Regions from separate parts of the Homo sapiens genome. Here region 2 is linked to region 1. Evidence: fine-mapped expression QTL. Tissue or cell type: whole blood. Region 1 holds a variant in brackets; the other region holds the start of a gene. All regions are shown on one strand. Distances are between the middles of the regions.

What was found. PIP is the estimated chance that this variant, and not a neighbour inherited with it, causes the effect. A credible set is the group of variants that fine-mapping cannot tell apart.
Region 2: it holds the start of FN3K, and the variant in region 1 is the best candidate, but not a certain one, in a credible set for the expression of FN3K in whole blood (TOPMed, PIP 0.53).

What each region holds. Positions count from the first base shown.
Region 1 is chr17:82,784,276-82,792,165 of GRCh38, reverse strand. The region is part of intron 7 of TBCD (tubulin folding cofactor D); the gene reads right to left. Among named protein-coding and RNA genes, the nearest start is that of TBCD, 36 kb to the right of the region's middle. RefSeq lists enhancers at 1,872-2,373, 4,604-4,653. The variant C/T (reference allele first, on the strand shown) is at 4,055.
Region 2 is chr17:82,732,120-82,740,009 of GRCh38, reverse strand. FN3K (fructosamine 3 kinase) reads right to left here and starts at 4,395. Exons shown (of 6, transcript NM_022158.4): 1 at 4,233-4,395; 2 at 1,370-1,521. The coding sequence starts at 4,373. RefSeq lists enhancers at 2,515-3,226, 3,227-3,939, 4,652-5,364.

The sequences.
Region 1 (7,890 bases):
CGGCTAATTTTTGTATTTTTAGTAGAGATGGGGTTTCACCATTTTAGCCAGGATGGTCTCGATCTCTTGACCTCGTGATCCACCCGCCTCGGCCTCCCAAAGTGCTGGGATTACAGGCGTGATCCACCGTGCCCAGCTGATGATATATTTTTACTGTACCTTTTCTATGCTTAGATGTGCAAACACCACTGTGTTACAGTTCCCTGCAGTATTCAGCACAGTCAGGTGCTGTACAGGTTTGCAGCCTGGGAGCAGCGGGCCACACCACCTGGCCTGGGAGTGCAGCAGGCCGCACCACCTGGCCTGGGAGCAGCAGGCCACACCATCTATGTTTAAGTGCACGCTACGGTGTTCACACGACGACACTGCCCAACGACGCAGTTCTCAGGACTACCCTCATTGTTAGGGGACGCATGACTGTTTCATGACTCACTCAGCATTTTAAAATGTTCTCAGCAGCCCACGTAGTGACCTCACAGCCATAAACAGCCAGCAGCATTACAGTATTCCAGCTTAAACAACTCCCCCATCACTGAGCCTTCTGGCTGCTATTCCGAGCTCATTCTGCACAGCCCATCTTTGCATGACAGGGACTTATGACTGTGCTCCCGTTCAGGTGTGTGTGACCACCTCTGGGGTGTGCCCCCTGCCCAAAGGCAACAGTTCCCACAGAAGAGAGGAGCAGCGAGCCCACGCACCTTCCAAGGCCCAGCAAAAGCTCGCAAAAGTGAACCACCACAGAGGTAAGATGCTAGAAAAGAGGTTAATGATCCATGGCCGGGCACAGTGGTTCACGCCTGTAATCCCAGCACTTTGGGAGGCCGAGGCAGGCAGATCACGAGGTCAGGAGATCGAGACCATCCTGGCTAACACGGTGAAACCCCATCTCTACTAAAATACAAAAAAATTAGCCAGGCGTGGTGGAGGGTGCCTGTAGTCCCAGCTACTCAGGAGGCTGAGCCAGGAGAATGGCGTGAACCCGGGAGGCGGAGCTTGCAGTGAGCCGAGATCGCGCCACTGCACTCCAGCCAGGGCAACAGAGCGAGACTCCGTCTAAAAAAAAAAAAAAAAAAAGATGCAAGAGACACAATTCCTGCCACAGAAAGCCTGAAAACAAACCAGACAAAATAGAATTGTATGCAGCTCCCAAGCCACCAAGCAGCCCACGGGCTCAGCGGCAAAGGGAGGGCAACGGCGGCAGGGAGACCACAAAGAGCAGTGGCTTTGCAGGGACCTGAAGGGGCATTGGCCTGGGAAGCAGGGGGCTCAGGCTCCAGCGTCTGAGGTCAGAGAGGGGTCTGAGCTTCTCTGCAGTGCAGGTGGGGGTGGCACAGCTCTGAGCCCAGCAGGAGGAGGATCCACCAACCAGGAGGCCAGTGGATGTGGTTATCCACTGTGGACACCATGTGGAAGAGAAAAAAGCAGACACATAGAGGCAAGGAAGGAAGAACGGGCAGAGACAAGGACAAGGCTGTGCTGATGCCACATCTCCCCCGGACGGCGCTGCTGACATATGCTGGGGGCGGCAGGGTGCACAGGGGTCCCACGGGCTGGCCACTGAGCAGCTCTGCCAGGGCAGAAACAAGCATGAGGACGGAGAGCATGGCTGAGAGCCACCTGCCACCTGGGGAGCCCATGGAGGCCGGCGAGCCAAGCAAAGACACCAGGACACACGGGGGGATGGGGAACCCCAGGCGTGGGCCACAGCCTGAGCCCTCCTGCTTCCGAGGCCAAGATGAGGCCACCCACTACCCAGGCCACAAGCTTCCGAGGCCACGCTTTACCCAGGCCACAGGCTTCCGAGGCCACCCTTTACGCAGGCCACAGGACAGCAGGTGTGCTGCCAGGATCAAGGGCACAGAGGCAGCATGGGACAGAGTCTGGCACTCTATGAATGGATGGCTCACACCCTCCACCAGCACCTTTACTGCAGCCGACAGCCACAGGAGAGGCGGGAGGGTAGTCGGGGAGCCCAGGGCCTCCAGAGGGAACACTTCACAGAAGGAAATGGCTCCCACCTGGACCAGGCGGCAGAGCGGGACAGACTCAGGATGACGTGAAGCACAGAGCCACGTGCTGGGACAAGGACCCCCAGGACAGGGTGGCGGCGCAGCCACATGAGAACAGATGAGCAATGAACCAGGAAGGAGACATGTCAGAGCCACGTCCACACAGGCAGGTGTGAGCGGACAGCGGGAGGGAACACGGCGTCTCGGGGATGAGCCCGGCTCCTGGGCCGTATGCACGGACAGCAGCACAGAAGCTCCCATTTGTTGCTGGGCTCCCGGGTAAACAGGCCAGGAGGGGAAAGTGATGGTACAACAGGTGTGACCTGGGACTTGCGGGTTCTGAAGTGTCACACGTGTACCCAACGGGTCCACAGAAGGAGGGCTCGAGAACCAAGGACAGAAATCAGGTAATAAAGGTCAAGGGTGAATCAGAGCTGAGATATCAACAGCCAGGACCAAAGCCTGAGGGACATCTGCCTTAGAGGGAAGGTGCCTCTAAGGTGACTGCGTGGGCAGTGAGGCATCACGGGTCTGTGAGCCAGGTGAGGGCGGGGCAGGGGAGAGGGCAGGGGCACCCCAACCTGCACAGGGGCCACAGGTCAGGACGACTGGGGCAGGGGCCACTGAGACCCAGCTCTAGCCCACTCAGCAGCAGCCCAGCCCAGCTCTCTGCCTGTCTCTTCCTCATCTAAGAACTGAGCGGGGTGAGGCTGGTGACCCGCCAAGCCCCCTCCCCGTCTAGCACATGACCCCGCGACGGGCTGCCTGTGAGCACACGTCTGTGAGCAGGTCGCGCCACCTCAGCAGGGATGGGCCAGGGCTGATGGGGACTCAAAGGCGTGCGGCTCACCATGCAGGTTTCTGTAAGACTCACGGCACTGTGCCCGCCCCACATAAAATGCTGAGTGATGGGAAATGAGTGTTAGGAGCTGGCTGCTCCAGGTCTTTCCTTAACGCCACGAGGAGACCGAACCAGCGTGGCCTGGGGTACCTCGTTTCACCCAAATGCTACAGGAGCATGATCTCTGGAAAGTACCCACATTCAAACTGCTCTTGTCCTATTTTCTCCATCCAAAACCTTGCCCCAAGAGAGCACTACAACTAAAAAGGACCACGTGGGTCATCTTCCTCTGGCCACACTGAACCCTAAATGAAACAGTAGGGTGCTGTTCCCCAAATCTGAAGAGAAATCAAAGCCTAAATGTGAAATGTTTTAGATAATCAGCTGTCTTCTTTCATCTTCAAAGACTGACTGTGCTAATTAGCCTCACACCAGCCTCTGCGGTGAGAGGTCTGCTGCTTCCCTCCCAGGTGGGGCGGGCGCTGGTGCTCACCCTGGCCTCAGGTCACAGGAGAGACGGAGTCAGCAAAGGGCCTGGGCACAGCTCACAGCAGCTCAAGCCCTGGTTCCCGGCCCACACACTCTTGGCCACAACCACTCCTACTTGGGGACCTGGCTGCTTTTATTAACTATAAAAAAGCAGAGTGGCTTCAGCACCTCTCTTCACAAGGGCCGAGCGGGAGCTGGGAGTGAGGCTGACAGTGCCAGCGTTCTTTGGCTTTCTTGGTTTTTAATGCTGTTGTGTGTGACTATTTTATCCTTTAACAAGAGTTGTGCTTTTGTCAATGATAAAAATAAAAAGAAACCGCACTGCAAAGGGGAGACTCGAGCCTAACAGCCGATAAGGGGAAGAGCATCCTATTACCACTTTCATAGTCAACAGCCCCGTCTCGCAGTCCGAGTCCCCCAGCCCCGCCGCCGCCTCCCAGCCATTGTGAGAACACACAGGGAGAAACCCACTCCACACAGTCGACAATCTTCCAATCAGAGCACTAGAAACCAAGAGAGCACAACTATCAATCAGCAAGCAGAGTCACACATGAAATGACAGCCATTTTCCTTTTTGTAAATTTTTTTTTAGATGGAGTCTTGCTCTGTTGCCCAGGCTGGAATGCAGTGGCGCCATGTCGGCTCACTGCAACCTCCACCTCCCGGGTTCAAGCGATTTTCCTGCCTCAGCCTCCCAAGTAGCTGGGATTACAGG[C/T]GCGCACCACCATGCCCAACTAATTTTTTGTATTTTTAGTAGAGACAGGGTTTCACCATGTTGGCCAGGCTGGTATCAAACTCCTGGCCTCAAGTGATCCACCTGCCTCGGCCTCCCAAAGCGCTGGGATTACCGGCATGAGCCACTGTGCCCAGCCCATTTTCCATTTTTAATGTGTTTTTCTCCTTCCTTGAATTTCCTCAATTTGCATTAATCTTAATGCTTAAATTGGGACTAAACCAAAGCGTGTTTTTAAAGCTGAAGTACAGGGGCCTTCCAGGGAAATTACATTGCCAAACACTTGCTTCCCTCCCACAGGAGTTAAAAACCCTCACTGCAAGGGAACTACGCTTCGAGGGAAATGAAGATCAAATCCTGGTTTCGATGGTACTTGTTGAGAGTTCACCTGTTTCGCCCACAGTAATGAACAGGTGGATGACAATGAAGCCAAGTGCATCAAAGGAAACAGATGAAACCCTAAGCAGAATCCACCTGCAAGTTTCATCATGTACAGCAGGCGCCCGGCCTCTGCCTGCAGCTCTGCCAAGCCCAAGGTGAAACCTCCCACCCGCTCAGCACCCAGCACGACTTCCTCCTGCTGAGGCAACCTGGATCAGACCAAACGGACCCTTCCAAGAGACAGAAGGAAACAACACACATGACTCTGGAAAGACTCGAGATGCTCCAGCAGCCGCCCAGGGCTTCAGACGCTCTGGAAGGGACGTGCTGGCCCCAGGAGCTGCCAGAAGCCCGGCCCCGCCAGGCGTTGCTTCACGGCAGTTTCATTCATTCCCTTCCCAGGGATTTCAGCCGGCTGCGTCAGACAATTGCTCACTCTTGCTGAGGGCAAATCTCTGAATAGTTCTGAGGTGCTGCTGCCAAACCGCCTGGGTGCTCTGCCCTAAACGGCAGGACAGCACGCCTCACTCTTTGCCAGCATATGCCGGGGGGTGGCACAGGGCTCGGCTCTCCTAAGCCTTTGAGAAGACCGTTTTACACCTCGGGAGGAAGGGGAAAAACGAATGTCTCTCCACCTCAACGTGGAACTTGGAGATGTCAAAATAAAAAGCACTTCCCCACTCCTGGCTGGTTTGACTTTGCTACAGGAATTCCCACCTGTCCCAGCAGCTAGGAGGGGAATGGGGCAGCGAGCCGTCCCGCCCACCCACCCTCTGGGTATTCCAAATGCAGGCTGTGCAACACGTGTCTCCCACTTGGGATGGAAGAACAGAAAACTTGGGAACAATCTAGAGAAAACCAACAAGATCATCAAAAAAAAAAAAAAAAAAAGTAAAGAACCGAACCCACAACAAAGAAACTGCAGAACTAGACACATGTGGCCACAAGACCCTCCCAAGCCGAGAAGGACTCGGAGCCCTGCACCCAGGGGACACCGTGGAGCCCTCCAAGGCAGCCTGAACGCAGTGGCCCACAGCCCCTCACCAGGAGGCTGCCTCTCCCACAGCCAGCCTGGCCAGAAGGTGGCACGCCTCACCTGCCTGCAAGTCCCTGGGCAGCCACAGCTGGCTCCAGCCCCAAGGCTGGGATATCCTGCTGACCCAACAGCATGGGGTGGGGACGGCAGAGGAGGGGAGGCTCCCAGGCCAGGCTGACGAGAGCTGCAGGAGACCCCTAGAAGCCCGTTAAGAGACCGGACAGAGATCAAATTTGCCTCCCCTCCCAAAGCAGCACCCACACTCGGGGCAGGGCTAACGGCCTCCCCTGCAGAGGCACCACACTCGGGGCAGAGCCATTGGAGACAACCAGCTCTGGTCACATCCTGTTAGACCTCCCATTTGCTCCCCTGACCTGAGATGTTTTTCCCCCACAGCACTGAGTTTTATTAGGGATTTCATTAAGGTTAAATTTCTAAGGATGAGGGAATCCTAGAGGGCAGAGAAGCCCTCGAAGCCACCTCAGATCCTGTGAGCCACAGGTTCTACGGTGGGATCGCCACCTGGTTCCAGGTGCAGATGATTATAAGGACACTGCTTTGGCCCCACGGGCTGGTAGGCTGGTTAATTCTTCCCCACCCAGAACACGATCATGAAGGCCGTGAAGCTGAAGAGCTGCTTACACAATATTCCAAGAAGCAGGTGTGCGGGACATATCCACATGGATCCTGACACACATGTAGGTGCCAACATTGTCATTTCACCAGTCCAACCTCAGGCCAGGTGGTCCCAGTCACAGCATGGACCCCCTCCCACTGCGATGGGTCGGGTCCAGTGGTCCCAGTCACACAGCATGGACCCCCCTCCCGCTGCGATGGGTCGGGTCCAGTGGTCCCAGTCACACAGCATGGACCCCCCTCCCGCTGCGATGGGCGGGATCCAGTGGTCCCAGTCACACAGCATGGACCCCCCTCCCGCTGCGATGGACGGGATCCAGTGGTCCCAGTCACACATCATGGACCCCCCTCCCGCTGCGATGGGTGGGATCCAGTGGTCCCAGTCACACAGCATGGACCCCCCTCCCGCTGCGATGGGTCGGGTCCAGTGGTCCCAGTCACACAGCATGGACCCCCCTCCCGCTGCGATGGGTCGGGTCCAGTGGTCCCAGTCACACAGCATGGACGCCCCTCCCGCTGCGATGGGTGGGATCCAGTGGTCCCAGTCACACAGCATGGACCCCCCTCCCGCTGCGATGGGTCGGGTCCAGTGGTCCCAGTCACACAGCATGGACCCCCCTCCCGCTGCGATGGGTCGGGTCCAGTGGTCCCAGTCACACAGCATGGACCCCCCTCCCGCTGCGATGGGTGGGATCCAGTGGTCCCAGTCACACAGCATGGACCCCCCTCCCGCTGCGATGGGTCGGGTCCAGTGGTCCCAGTCACACAGCATGGACCCCCCTCCCGCTGCGATGGGTGGGATCCAGTGGTCTCAGTCACACAGCATGGACCCCCTGTCGCTGCGATGGGTGGGATCCAGTGGTCCCAGTCACACAGCATGGACCCCCCTCCCGCTGCGATGGGTGGGGTCCAGTGGTCCCAGTCACACAGCATGGACCCCCCTCCCGCTGCGATGGGTGGGGTCCAGTGGTCTCAGTCACACAGCATGGACCCCCTGTCGCTGCGATGGGTGGGATCCAGTGGTCCCAGTCACACAGCATGGACCCCCCTCCCGCTGCGATGGGTGGGGTCCAGTGGTCTCAGTCACACAGCATGGACCCCCTGTCGCTGCGATGGGTCGGGTCCAGTGGTCTTAGTCACAGCACGTACCCCTTTCCCACTGCAATGGTTCGGGGAGCTGCGGCAGTTGCCACACCCCATGCCACCAGCCGGGTAAGGCTCATGGTCTTCCACACGCATGTCATACTTCTTGGCAGTAGCGGCCCATTCTTCTGGGGTCTTAGGGACCTAAGAGCGTGTCCTTGGTCATGTGGGAGGCTGTCTGTACACCCAGCATCACAAACATTAAGGTGAAGCTACCAGAATTCCCAGGACCCCCACCCTGGCCACTGCCATCTACCCCTTCTTCATGTTTCCTCAGTGAGACCCAAGGCAAAAAATGAAGAATCCAATTGCAACTAAATCCACCACCTTTACCAGAATTGCCTAAAACATAAAACGCACATTCCCTGAGGATCCATGGACCAATGGCACAGTGGGTACGTCCGAGACCTGAGTCCTCCCTGCCCTACCCCTCCACCCCCGTACCCTTCAAGGCCAGCCTCAGCCTGCCCTGACCTCCACGATAGCAATGAATCCTCTTTAGGCATTGAGGATGCTGCCCCAGCACGGCCGGAACGAGGGGCACCTGGGGACACAGACAGCACATCTGTACCTGCAATGCCCAAAAATGCCTGGCATGAGGAGGTCCTCTATTTCATCAGTA
Region 2 (7,890 bases), 52 kb after region 1:
ATCATTTGAGCCCAAGAGGCAGAGCTTGCAGTGAGCCTAGACTGCACCACTGCACTCCAGCCTGGGCGACAGAGTAAGACTCTGTCTCAAAAAACAAAAAAAAAAGGAAAGAAAAAGCAAAAGAAAAAGATGGACTGGGTGTGGTGGCTCACACCTGTAATCCCAACACTTTGGGAGGCCAAGGCAGGCGGATCACTGAGGTCAGGAGTTTGAGACCAGTCTGGCTAACATGCTACTAAAAATACAAAAATTAGGCCGGGCGCGGTGGCTCACGCCTATAATCCCAGCACTTTGGGAGGTCAAGGCGGGTAGATCACGAGGTCAGCAGATCGAGACCATCCTGGCTAACATGGTGAAACCCCGTCTCTACTAAAAATACAAAAAATTAGCCGGGCATGGTGGCGGGCGCCTGTAGTCCCTTCTACTCGGGAGGCTGAGGCAGGAGAATGGCGTCAACCCAGGAGGCAGAGTTTGCAATGAGCCAAGATCGCGCCACTGCACTCCAGCCTGGGTGACAGAGCGACACTCCGTCTCAAAAAAAAAAAAAAAAAAAATAGCTGCGTGAGGTGGTGGGGTGCCTGTAATCCCAGCCACTCGCGAGGCTGAGACAAGAGAATTGCTTGAACCCAGGAGGCGGAGTTTGCAGTGAGCCAAGATTGCATCACTGCACTCCAGCCTGGGAAACAGAGCAAGACTCTGTCTTGGAAAAATAAAATAAAAATAAAGTACAAAGCAAATGATGGGTTCAAATATACTTATTTTGGGCAGGTGTGGTGGCTCAGGCCTGTTATCCCAGCACTTTGGGAAGCCGAGGTGGGTGGATCACTTGAAGTCAGAAGTTTGAGACCAACTCAGCCAACATGGTGAAACCCCATCTCTACTAAAAATACAAAAATTAGTCAGGTGTGGTGGTGGACACCTGTAGTCCCAGCTACTCAGGAGGCTGAGGTGGGAGAATCATTTGAACCCTGGGGGCAGAAGTTGCAGTGAGCCGAGATTGCACCACTGCACTGCACTCTAGCCTGGGCAACAGAGCGAGACTGTGTTTCAAAAAAAAAAAAAATATATATATATATATATATATGTGTATATATATATATTTTATGCAGCCTCATTACAGCCAAACTTATCTAGGAAAACCAGTCACATACCAGAAAGCAGTAACTTTTTATCTCCATTAAGAATGGCAGGGTGGAACTCTTGGCCCTGCCTCTGATAACCGGGCAGTTGTGTGGACGGCTCAGCCACAGGCTTCTCCCTGTTTCTGTCTCCCTCCCCATCTCTATCCCTTTCTCTGTCTCTCTCTGTTTGTCTCTGAGTCTCTCTCTGCCTGTACACATGTGCGCATATGGGTCTCACACACACTCACCTGCTCAAGCTCTTCATCTTCAAATGCTCCATCACAAAGGCGGCCCCACCTCCCGGCAGGTCGATGACCTTCATGGGCCTCGGCACCCGCACCAGGCCCGTGCTCCTGAGGGCCTCCAGGCTGGCCACCTCCCCCTCAAACATCTGCCGGGCCTGCATCCAGAACACAGCCTTGTCAGCCTTGTTGACTCAGCCAGGGCCTCTGCCCACTGGGCCCTTGACAGAAGCTACCACGTGGGAGTCACAAGGACCTTCATTCACTGATAGCTGGCTCTGGCTGGGAGCTGGCGTCCACCACAGAGGGCAGGGTGCAGAGGGGCCCCCCGTCGGAGACGAGAGGCTGCAAGGCTGAGGCTGAGCCTGGGCCGTGAGGGGTGTGGGGTCTGCAGGCTGCTGTGACAGGAGGATGCACAGGCCACGTGTGGGTGCCCGGGAGCACTGAGGGCGTGGGGAGGTGTGAGTGAACCAAGGTCCAGAGCTGGACCCCCGGGCTACCCACCTTCCTTGCTGCCTCTTAGGGTGGGGCAGCCACAGCAGAGGCCTCACTGGAGCTAACTTGGGCACACACGTCAGGCAGGGAAGAAGAGGGCTGGGCCCATCAGGCGGGGCCTCAGGTCCAGGGCAGGGGCTGGGAAGGTAAAAGGCACGGCACACCCGGCCGGCCCCCAACGCCTCCCGTGGGACCTGGGCCTTCCTGTTTCTGAAATATTCCCACAAACATTCCAGTTTTCAGTTAGGTGAACACTCACCTCACGTACAGTACACATTGGTTGAAAACATGCATTGACGAACGTGGTCCATGAATACCTTGGCCTATAGAATTGCATGTTTGTTTTGAGACAGGGTCTCACTCTGTCACCCAGGCTGGAGGGCAGTGGCATGATCTCGGCTCACGGCAGCCTCCGCCTCCTGGGTTCAAACGATTCTCCTGCTTCGGCCTCCTGAGTAGCTGGGATTACAGGTGTGGGCCACCCCACCCCGCTGTGTTTTTCTGTATTTTTACTAGAGATGGAGTTCCACCGCCGTGCGTGGTGGCTCGCACCTGTAATCCCAGCACTTTGGGAGGCCGGGGTGGGCGGATCACAAGGTCAGGAGATTGAGACCATCCTGGCTAACACGGTGAAACCTCGTCTCTACTAAAAATACAAAAAATTAGCCAGGCAAGGTGGCGGGCACCTGTAGTCCCAGCTACTCGGGAGGCTGAGGCAGGAGAATGGAGTGAACCGGGAGGCGCAGCTTGCAGTGAGCCGAGATCCAGCCTGGGCGACAGAGCAAGAGTCCGTCTCAAAAAAAAAGAGATGGAATTTCACCATGATGGCCAGGCTGGTCTCAAACTCCTGGCCTCAAGTGATCCACCTTTCCTCAGTCGCCCAAAGTGTAGGACTGCATGTTTAAAAAAATCAAACCTCATGAATGAGACCAAAGCATCTGCTGGTGCACACGAACAGAACGCCCTTTCCTTCAAAGTACCCCAGGGAAAGCCCAGGCACAGCCTCCCCAGCCTGGCAGCCCTGGCCAGCCTGCACCGAGGGTGGGTGTGAGTGTCCACAGGTGGGAGGGCGGCCGGCACACCCCAGCCCTGCTCCAGGGCGAGCCCCCCATGCACCAGGCCAGGAACTCCCGGCCTTGGGGCTGCTAAGCCCCAGGGGCCCCAGCATCACCTGCTCTTATGCATGGACTGAGCAGCTACTATGTGCCGGCCCCTCGTGGGGGTGGGAGGGAAGGAGGGGTCTCACCCTGCAGAGCTTTCAGGACCAGCTGAGGAAGTTTCCCAGAGCCCGTGGGAAGCCTGAACCAAAAACTGCTTCCCTGTGAGTAGGACTCCCCACTTTGAGGGATTTGGTTCTGAGCCGGCAGAGCAGGTGATGCCGGAGGATCCGATCGCACGCCCAGGCTGCATGGCTCTGGTGTTCCTCCTGCCAGCACTCCCCACCAGGACCCCTGCTGCCCCTCAGAGAGCTCCCCCACCAGAGTGTGCAGGGCCTTCTGAGCCCACTCGGGCCGGGAGGGCACCCAGGCCTGCCTTTCTCCACCTGCCGGCTCTCAAGGCTGAAGCTAACCTTCTCCACTTCCTCCGTTAACATTTTCCATACTTTTTTTTTTTTGAGACGGAGTTTCCCTCTTGTTGCCCAGGCTGGAGTGCAATGGCGCGATCTTGGCTCACTGCAACCTCCATCTCCTGGGTTCAAGCAATTCTCCTGCCTCAGCCTCCCGAGTAGCTGGGATTACAGGCCAGTGGCACCACATCCGGCTAATTATTGCATTTTTTGGTAGAGACGGGGTTTCACCATGTTGGCCAGGATGGTCTCGAACTCCTGACCTCAGGGATCCACTCACCTCGGCCTCCCAAAGTGATGGGATTACAGGTGTGAACCACCGCGCCCGGCCTTCCATACATTCTTAAACAGAACTATTTTCAGCAGGAGATAGAAATCAGGTCTAAACACAGACAAGGCCTGTGGGAAGGAGAACGCTGGCCTGGCCCGTGGGGTCCCTGCCAGGGGCCCAGCCATGTCTCTGCTTCTTTCCCACTGCCAGGAGGACGGTGGGCTGAGAGGGGCGGCCCAGAGCTGAGCCAAGGACCCCAAGCCTCACATCCCCCGACGCTTGCTGGATAGGAAAGTTAAAACCACCCCTAGAAGCCTGTGCGCTGCGCATGGAGGCCAAAGGAAGGTCACGGATCGTGCAGACACAAACCTTCACAGAACGCTTGAGCCGGGCTCACCCAGCAGGTGCCACCTCCCAAGGGCCAAAGCTGACCCCTCCCCAGGCCCAGCCCCAGGAAATGCGCCTGCCCCCGACCCCTCCGCCTTCCCAGGCCCCGCAGAGACCCGCAGAGCCCCCGCCTGCGCACGGGCCAGCACCTGCGTCCTGCGGTTGACTTTGACGAACACTGGGCCTGCGTCCGTGTCGTAGGCTCGGCCCTCGCTGATGCAGCCGGCGCCGGGGCCGCCGAAGGCCCGCAGGGTCGCGGTGCGCAGCTCGGCGCGCAGCAGCTGCTCCATGGAGTGCGGGGCGCGGGACTCTGCTCGCTCGGAAGCCCCTGTCGGCTGAGGCGCTGCGGGGCGGGGCGGGGCGGGAGCGCGCGGCGCGTGACCCCGGGCGGCGGGAGGGGCGGCCTCAGGCGGGCTCGCCGCGCGCTCCCCGCGTTCGTCCGGCTTCGCGCTTCCTGCGCCCGGGATTCGGGGGAAGCAGCCGGGAGTCCGCGCAGCTCTTCGCGGGCGCGCTGGGGCTTGAGCTCCCTGCAGGGACCCGGTATCCCTGCCCCGCAGCGGACGCAGGTCCGGCCCTCGGCCCGGGCGCTGGTCACAGGCCTGGCCGGCTTCCCACACTGCAGACCAGGCCGGGCCCAGCGGCCCCCGTGATGACGTGGGGCTTGCGCACTGGGACGCCAGGTGCCGATCGGAGAGAGAGGCTGACGTGGGGGCTCCGATGGCACGCGCTGACCCGGCCCAGGGTGGGGCTGCTGATTCCAGGATGTCCTGGGAAAGGGACTTGAGACACAGGAATGCCCACGCGCGCCCATGCATGCATACACGTGGGTACACACGCGTGCACACGAGCAGGTGCGCACCTGAGCCCAGTCCGTGCTGAAGTCATTTGACGTGAGGTTTTTTTATTGTTTGTTTTTTGTGTTTTTAAGAGATGGAGTCTCTGTCTCCCAGGCTGCAGTGCAGTGGCGCGATCTCGGCTCACTGCAAGCTCCGCCTCCCGGGTTCAAGCCATTCTCCTGCCTCAGCCTCCCGAGTAGCTGGGACTACAGGCGCCCGCCACCACGCCCGGCTAATATTTTTGTATGTTTTAGTGGAGACAGGGTTTCACCCTGTGAGCCAGGATGGTCTCAATCTCCTAACCTCGTGATCCACCCGCTCGGCCTCCCAAAGTGCTGGGATTACAGGCGTCAAGCCACCGGCCCGGCCTGCCCAGCTACATTTTGTAGTTTTAGTAGACATGGGGTTTCCCCATGTTGGCCAGGTGACCTGCGTGCCTCAGCCTCCCAAAGTGCTGGGATTACAGCCGTGAACCACCACGCCCGGCCATGCATGAGGTTTTAATCAATAAATCTGTTTTTTTTAGGGCCCCAACAATTGTCTTTTCCCACAGAGATGCAGGGGTCCTGCCGCGGGGAGGGAGCCTTTGGGAGCTGCCTATCCCCGCGGTCCTGCCCACTTGCTCAGCTGGGCTGGGGTCATCGGGAGGCTCCTTAACTCCTACATCTGGCACCTCGGCCAGGATCACTGGAACCTGGGCTTAGCGGTCACTGTCAAGCAGGACATGTCCATGTGGCCTCCTGGTGTGGCCTGAGCTTCCCTGAACATGGAGGCCAGGTTCCAAGAGTGAGCACTGGGAGAGCCAGAGCTCCCAGAGAGCTGGCAGAAGCAAAGGCCTTTTCTGACCTGGCCTCAGAAGCCACACACCATCATTTCCACCTCCTTCCATCGGTCTCCAAAGCCGCAATCAAGGCAAGGGGATCCGCAGCCACCTCTTTTTTTTTTTTGAAACAGGGTCTTGCTCTGTCACCCAGGCTGAAGTGCAATCTCGGCTCACTGCAACCTCCACCTCCCGGGTTCAAGCGATTCTCCTACCTCAGCTTCCTGAGTAGCTGGGATTACAGGCACGCGTCACCACGCCCCGCTAATTTTTGTATTTTTAGTAGAGACGGGGTTTCACCATGTTGGCCAGGATGGTCTCAAACTCCTGGCCTCAGGTGATCCGCCTGCCTCAGCCTCCCAATGTGCTGGGATTACACATGGCACCCGGCCAAGCAGCCACCTCTTGACAGGAGTGGCAGGGCTGCCGCAGAACAGCAGGTAGGACAGGAGGATGACTGTGGTGTCTGCAGAAAGGGCATGTGCCAGTCCCTGGCTTTTTCTCATCTGAAGCCCACCCTGCTATCGCATCTTGACAGAAGGTTCCTGACAGGCCAGTGTGAGCTCTCGTACGTCTGTAAATTTCTTTCTTCCTAGTTGACAGTTTGGCTGGGTATCAAATTCCAGCTTGGAGATCAGACCATGTTCTTTAGGAACCAAGAAGCTGCCAGCTCCAGTTTTGATGTTGAGAAGCTTATGGCCATTTCAGTTCTTATTCTTTGTGTGGAAACTGTTCTATCTCTGCAGGCTTTTAGGGTCTTCTCTGTGACACCAGTGAAAAATTCCCCAGGGAGGTGTCAGGGTGAGTCTCCTGTCATCCCCTGAACAGGACTGGTGGGTCCTCCAATCCTGGGACAGCTTTTAGCCCTTCATGGCGTTCTCCCTCTGTATTCTTGGTTCTCTTTTTTGGAATTCCAACACTGTGGTCTAGAGTCAGTCCTCTCTGTTACTGCCTCAAAGCCCCTTGTAATTTTTCTTCATACAACTCATGAGTCTACAGTCAGATATTAGGCGTCACACAGAGAACCATACGAGTGCTCAGGTCTCTCAGTGAGAAGAGGTGCCTGAATGAAGAAACAGATATGCAGGCACCAGGCTAGGAAGTCCTCTATGTGGGGGGTTAAGAGCTGTTGAAGATTCAAGGGCAGGGCAGTTAAGTGATCCCAAGTTTCTTAGAGAATTAGTAGAGTAAATTGTATGGTGTGCAAATAATACTGTTTTTAAAACGACCTGTATCGGCTGGTTGCAGTGGCTCATGCCTGTAATCCCAGCTCTTTGGGAGGCCGAGGTGGGTAGATCACAAGGTCAGGAGTTCAAGACCAGCCTGATCAACTTGGTGAAACCCTATCTCTACGAAAAATACAAAAAAATTTTAGTCGGGCATGGTGGCACACACCTGTAATCCCAGCTACTTGGGACGCTGAGGCAGGAGAATTGCTTGAGCCTGGGAGTGGAGGTCGTACTGAGCCGAGATCACGCCACTGCATTCCAGCCTGGGTGACAGAACAAGACTCCGTCACAAACAAAACAGAACCTGCCCTCTGTCCGGTTTCCCGTTCTGGGAGTGGTACCACCCATCTTTTTCCCCATCTGCCTGGATGTCTTAGTACAGGGCCTGGTCTGCGGTGCTGGTCAGGTGTCGGGGCCACCCATGCTTGTGATCCTACCATCAGCCCAGAGGAGAGGCGTGGACGGAGTAAAGGTGGGATGTGGACCTCAAGCTGGAGGAATCAAGGAGGACCCAAGAAAGGGGCCTGGCACAGACATGGGCAGGGTGTGGGGAGACCACAGGACAGAGCTGAGCCTGGCTACAGAGCTGGCGCCACCCAGGCCTGGGGTGTGGGCTTGATGAAGGAAGTCTGAGAATGATATCCTAACCTCACCCACCCTCCCCATCTCCTCTCGGCTCCCCTGGGCCACCCCAAGCAGAGGCCAGCTGGTTAATGGAGTGGTTCAGGCAGAGGCGTGGATGGGTGGAGGTGGGATGTGCAGACGTGGCACAGGCTTCAGTGAAATACGTGGACAAGCCGGTGGCACTGCTCCCTCTCTCTCACCACCCTGTCCTGGCCCCTCCATGGCTCCTGGGCCTTTGCCCTTCTCACAGTCCTGCTTACCCACTCACAGGAAAGCCCCCGCCAGCCCTCTCCCTGCT